Linked DNA regions of Homo sapiens: region 1 is linked to region 2. The links come from fine-mapping of genetic effects on gene expression. A gene starts in region 2. The other region holds a variant in brackets. All regions are shown on one strand. Distances are from middle to middle.

The links. PIP is the estimated chance that this variant, and not a neighbour inherited with it, causes the effect.
Region 1: its variant is fine-mapped to the expression of DAPK1 in whole blood (TOPMed, PIP 0.98).

Annotation. Positions count from the first base shown.
Region 1 is chr9:87,553,448-87,556,354 of GRCh38, reverse strand. The region is part of intron 2 of DAPK1 (death associated protein kinase 1); the gene reads right to left. It overlaps DAPK1-IT1 (DAPK1 intronic transcript 1), which reads right to left and starts at 2,901. Exons shown (of 2, transcript NR_146781.1): 1 at 2,765-2,901; 2 at 1,896-2,460. RefSeq lists an enhancer at 352-521. The variant T/G (reference allele first, on the strand shown) is at 1,231.
Region 2 is chr9:87,496,160-87,499,066 of GRCh38, reverse strand. DAPK1 (death associated protein kinase 1) reads right to left here and starts at 1,200. Exons shown (of 26, transcript NM_004938.4): 1 at 960-1,200; 2 at 1-97. RefSeq lists silencers at 242-351, 562-751, 1,122-1,471, 1,492-1,551 and an enhancer at 94-851.

The DNA.
Region 1 (2,907 bases), 57 kb before region 2:
TTTGACAAAGGAAGCTTGGGCAAAGTACCTTGCCTCTCTGCACCTGTTTCCTCCTCCATAAAATCAACATAATACTTGTACCAACCTCACAGCGCTGTTGTGAAGATTAAATGAGGTAACACAGGAAAAAGCACTTAGAACAATGCCAGCCCACACAGGTGCTGGGCTGCATAAGTCATTATTAACTACATGTCCACCCAAAATGTCCTTCTATTTTTGGGTCCTGCATCACTGATGAGTTTCGGTGACGGAGATTAGAATACAAAAAAACAGTTCTTCATATGCCCCGGGCAGTAATTACCATGGTGGCATTTACTCTTGCTTCTTCCTTCATAATACCTCATTTTCTCATTCGTCTTTTTAGGAATAAAACAGAAGCTACTGACAACACGTACTAGTGACTACTTCCATTCCTCTAAATAATAATTTTCCCATGCAATTGTTTAATCATATTGATATGGAACTCGCCTAGCTTTTAGTTAGCCGGTAATTTGTTAACAGTGTGCTCTTGCATGACTGCATATTTGTTCTTAACGATAAGCTTTAAAGTGCTTCTGGCTGCAGTGGCTTACGCCTGTAATCCCAGCACTTTGGGAGGCCAAGGCAGGCAGATCACCTGAGGTCGGGAGTTCGAGACCAGCCTGACCAACATGGAGAAACCCTGTCTCTACTAAAAATACAAAATTAGCTGGGCGTGGTGGCGCATGCCTGTAATCCCAGCTACTCGGGAGGCTGAGGCAGGAAAATTGCTTGAACCCGGGAGGCAGAGGTTGCAGTGAGCCGAGATCACACCATTGCACTCCAGCCTGGGTAACAAGAGCGAAACTCCATCTCAAAAAAAAAAAAAATAACTAAATAAAATAAAGTGCTTCATGATAAATAAATTTCACTTTGTTTTTTCTGTTGTTGTTTGTGTTACTAATACTTCTTGAGGAAGTATATCAGATAGCCCCAGGGTGTCATTCTCATCTAGTCCTTGTGTCTGTGACAGAGAAGGAAAAGAGAGAAGGCAAAAGGGAGGGCAGATATGTTGCTTAAGAGGTCAAGACAAGGCTTAGCTGGGACCTAATTGTCTGACTTAATGTCTGCTTAAGAACGTGCTGTATTATGGAAATGCCCTAACGGGACAGCTAGATCAGGAACTGGGTTTTCTGGGACCATGAGGTTTAGAAATAAGGAACTTCCTTTGCTGACAAAAAGGGATGTTATGTAAACCCCCAAGTCCTTAAG[T/G]CATAATACTGAGGCTGCCCTTGAGGGCAGGGTGATGAGACCCTGGTGCACACCCACACAGCTTTCCCCACTTCTTTGCTCAGGACTCTTCAGAGGTCCCTGCAGGGTTCCTCCATGGTTCTAGAAAGTTCCTTGGCACTAAGAACCCTCTCCAGAGATCAAGGGGCCTCTACAACTGATACCATCATTAGATTCTCACTGTAGATTGTGGCAGAGAACTTGCCACCAGAAGGGCTTCCCTTTAATGACCTCCAGGAGAACTGGCTGAAGCCAAGGGCAGAAGCCCTGACACTCTCAGACCTCCGGTGGGGGTGGGGGAAATGGCTACACGGCCTGGGTGGGAGACAGCATCAGCTTCCTCCCTCCCGCCAGAGCAGTCAGGCCGAGGCCAGCTGATGGCACTTTGCTCATTTGGGTCCAGGTTGCCATGGAGATCAGCGATCTCCCTAGATGCCTCCTGACTATAGGAGCAACTAGCGCATTACTGCCGAGGGATCTACATGAGCGCCCTAAGTCCTACTGTGGAGAGGGCCTTCCTGTGGAAGGCTCCTAAGGGTGGTCCCATCCATCTTCTGGCTTGAGTCAAAGACAGAGTTCCAGCATAGTCACTGTTATGTCCGGAGGTAAAAATTCTTTAAACTGAATTTCCTAGATGAAGTAAAGACTTTTTTTTTTTTTAGTATTACATTTTATTTTTACTGCTTCTTCCAGTATTGCACAATCCCATAATTATTGCTATTCAGCTAAAAACATGCCTCGAGGCATTGCAGAAGATGAGAATAATAATTTTAAAAACTGGAGTCAGCAACACGAACTCTTGAAAGCACTAGTATAAAAGCATTCAAGAAATAACTTCCTCTGGCTTCCTTGGACTTGTTTAAGAGATTACTAATGGCAAAATCAAGTGGAAATTTTAATGGATCAGTAGGTCTTTATGAACTATAAGTTCCCCAGATGAAAATCAAAATGCTGCTCGTGATGTATGCCTTAGAACAGGATTGCTGACCTAAGGTCTGGGAACCTGCTAAGGCTGTGGGCTTATGCACTGAGTATTTGAGAGCATTTTTCTGAAAAGGGGAGCACATAGCTCTCAACTACTCTCCAAGGGGGTCCCCCAAATGTTAAATTTAGAGTTTGCTTAGTTGACAGCAGAGTTTCCCGATCGGGTTCCCTTTTGTTGTTCTAGTGAACAGGTAAAAACTCAGTGAAAGGCAGACTGGGAATGTTCTCCTGCCTCCCTTTCTGCCCACAAGCCACATGTCTCATCCTTTTTCTTCCGCTTCCTCTCCTTATTGCCCTCATCTGTGGAATATTGAAAATAAATATTGAGGCCGGGCATGGTGGCTCACGCCTGTAATCCCAGCACTTTGGGAGGCCCAGGCGGGCGGATCACTTGATGTCAGGAGGTCGAGACCAGCCTGGCTAACAGGGCAAAACCCCGTCTCTATTAAAAATACAAAAATTAGCCGGGCATGGTGGCACACACCTGTGATCCCAGCTACTCGGGAGGCTGAGGCAGGAGAATCACTTAAACCTGGGAGGTGGAGGTTGCAGTGAGCCGAGATCGCACCACTGCACACCCGCCTGGGCAACAGACCGAGACTCCATCTCAAAAAAAAAAAAAAAAAGAAAAGAAAAGAAAAAGAAAATAAATATTGAGCACCCTAAGCACCAGAC
Region 2 (2,907 bases):
ACGCCTCACCAAAGCCCAGGGCACTTCAGCTCCGCTTCCCAGACCATCACCACCGCTCCTGCGCCTCCGTAGCCCCCTCATGCATCAGTCTCCAGTCCTTTTGAAGAAAAAAAAAAGGCAATAATAATAGTAAAATGGCAACCCCAAAAGGAAGTAGACCTCCCCGGCGCTAAGACCCCGCTCGCTGAAGACCGGGTCTCCGGAGCTGCCCCTCCTCGCGGGGTGGAGAGGAGCACCCTTTGTTAAAGCTGGGCGGCCAGGGACGCCCCCGACCCCTCAGCCCCGCGCGCGCGTGGGGCCGGGCACCACGGCACCCCGAGGTCGGCGTCCCCAAACGCTGGGCGGTCTGTTGGGATCAGAACCGGCTCCGGAAGTGACTGGCCTCCCCGCCTCCCCTTTCTCTGCACACATGCCCACCCAGCTTTCCCACCTCCAGGGACGCCGCGGAAGAATGAAGCCCTCGCCCAGACGGTACGCGCCTCACTGGGAGCAATCTCTCTCCAGCCTGCGGCAACGGTGGCACCCCCGCGCCACCTCTCGGCTCCCGCGCCTCTCCTAACACCGTGGCCACCCTCTCCCCTTCCCCGAGCGAGGCAGTCCCCAGAGCCACATTCCTGGCGACTCCCTCTCCGTTACCCGGCCGACCCGGCGTGCGGCCGCCCGGGGGAGCAAGGGAGGGAAGGGAGCGGCCCACCGAGGCGCAGCAGTTCGCTCCAGATCCTCGCGCCCCGACACAAAGCGCCTGGTCGGGCCGGCGCCACCTGTTCTCACCCGGCCCGCGGGGCTGGGGAAGCCTCCCGGCTGCGATCGCACTTCTCCCCGAAGCCAAGTTTCCCTCCGCCTTGGCCTTCCCAGTTGCTCGAGGCACTGCCCGGACAAACCCCACCGCGCCCTGGCTGGGAAAGCAAAAGCTGGCGCCGGGGGTCGGGGGGACCGGGGAGCCGCGCCTGGCTACTCACCCGGGCGCCTGGGAGCTCCCCCGGTCCCTCCGGAGCGCTGTCGGAGGCCGACCATAGGCGCCAGCGCCGGAGACTAGCCGGGGCGGCGGCGGGAACACAGCTAGGGAGTGAGTGGGGGGCGCAGATCCCTCCCAGGCGCCGGCCCCAGACCCTGCCGCTGCGAGTTGCCGAGTCCCCTCCGCGGAGGGAACAAAGTCCCCGGCGTTGGCTCGGTCCGGCTGTCCTCCTCACACTCCGAAGCAGCCTCTCGGCTCCTTGCCGCCTTTTGGGCGGAGGGCGGCCGGCAGGCGGCCAATGGGGACCCTGCAAGCGGGCTGGCGGCGCGGCCCACCCACCTCCGAGCTGCCCTGCCAGGCCGGCGCTGCGGGTTCTGCGCGGCGCTCGCTGCTCCTCCCAGCTCCGCGCTCCGGGCTCGCTGGCGCGCTCTACCGCGCACACCCCGCACACACCCACTCGCCCCACACCCACGCCGGCCGGGGAGCCAGTGCGTCCGCCCGGAACGCGGGCGCCCCACCTGTGACACATTGCTAAGCTGCCCTCTGACTGGGTTCTAGGGAAACACGGTTCTTCCGTCCCGAGATGTGTACTGGGATCCCAGCTTGTGCCGGGCACGGTGCTTGGTATGGGAAAATCACATAGAACAAAACAGATTTTTTTAAATCCCTGCCTTCCGGAAACCTGCATTCTGGTGGGACAGATAGATAATAAATATGTAAGCTAATTAATAAGGTAATTTTGGAGGATCAGTCCTACGTTTACCACGAAACAGGTTAATGGAATAGAGAATGGCAGGAAGGGAGCGTACCTCATTAGACTGGGTTCCTCTGCCGGACTGGTGTTGGAGCCGAGGCTTGAAGGCAAGAAGGTTTGCAATCTGAAGAAAGGGTTGAGGTCTCCGAGACCCAAAGAAGCAACAGAGACGCAGAGTTTATTTGCGCTATCCCATATGCTATTGGCTATTGTTGAGCTGAAATGTAGCTAGTCCCAAATTAATTGTGCTGTAAGTGTAAAATACACATTAGAGTCCAAGACAGTATGGATATGAGAATGAAAAATATCTCATGAATATTTTTATATTCATTACACTTTCAAATGATAGTATTTTGGATACGTTGGGTTAAACAAAATATATTATTAAAATTAATTTCACCTGTTTACTTTCTTTTTTTTGAGACGGAGTCTCACTCTGTCGCCAGGCTGGAGTGTAGTGGAGCGTGGCAACCTCCACCTCCAGGGTTCAAGTGATTCTCCTGCCTCGGCCTCCCCAGTAGCTAGGACTACAGTCGCGCGTCACCATGCCCAGCTAATTTTTGTATTTTTAGTAGAGACGGGGTTTCACCGTGTCGACCAGGATGGTCTCCATCTCTTGACCTCGTGATCCGCCCGCCTGGGCCTCCCAAAGTGCTGGGATTACAGGCGTGAGCCACCGCGCCCGGCCTCACCTGTTTACTTTTTAAAAGGTGGCCACTAGAAAATATAACAGTACCTATGTTGCTTGCATGAGATTTCTGAGGACTGTGCTGGTCTACACAAAGATCCCATATCCACTGGAGACCTCTATCCACTTTCTCTACTTCCCACCCCTTGCTCCCACCTAATGTTTGGGTGGAGACGAAGAAGGGTTGATTCCCCACATCCCACTGCTGGAGAACCCCAAACGGTGAAAAGCTCCTAAAGGGAAATCTATTTTACTGCCTAGAATGATGAAAACTGACAGATGAAGAGATTTCCGATCCATACCGTTGTTCAAATCCCCAGGCTTTCTAAACTGAGTTGGTTCAAATCTCTGTGGTTCAACAGAAATTTTCAACTGTGAAGATTTTGGCCTCTTGAAAACAAGGCAAAACAAAACAAAAGAATACCCCTCAGGCCTTATGTCAAATCCTAGTCTTTTTTTTTTTTTTGAGACGGGTTTTCGCTCTTGTGGCCCAGACTGGAGTGCAGTTGT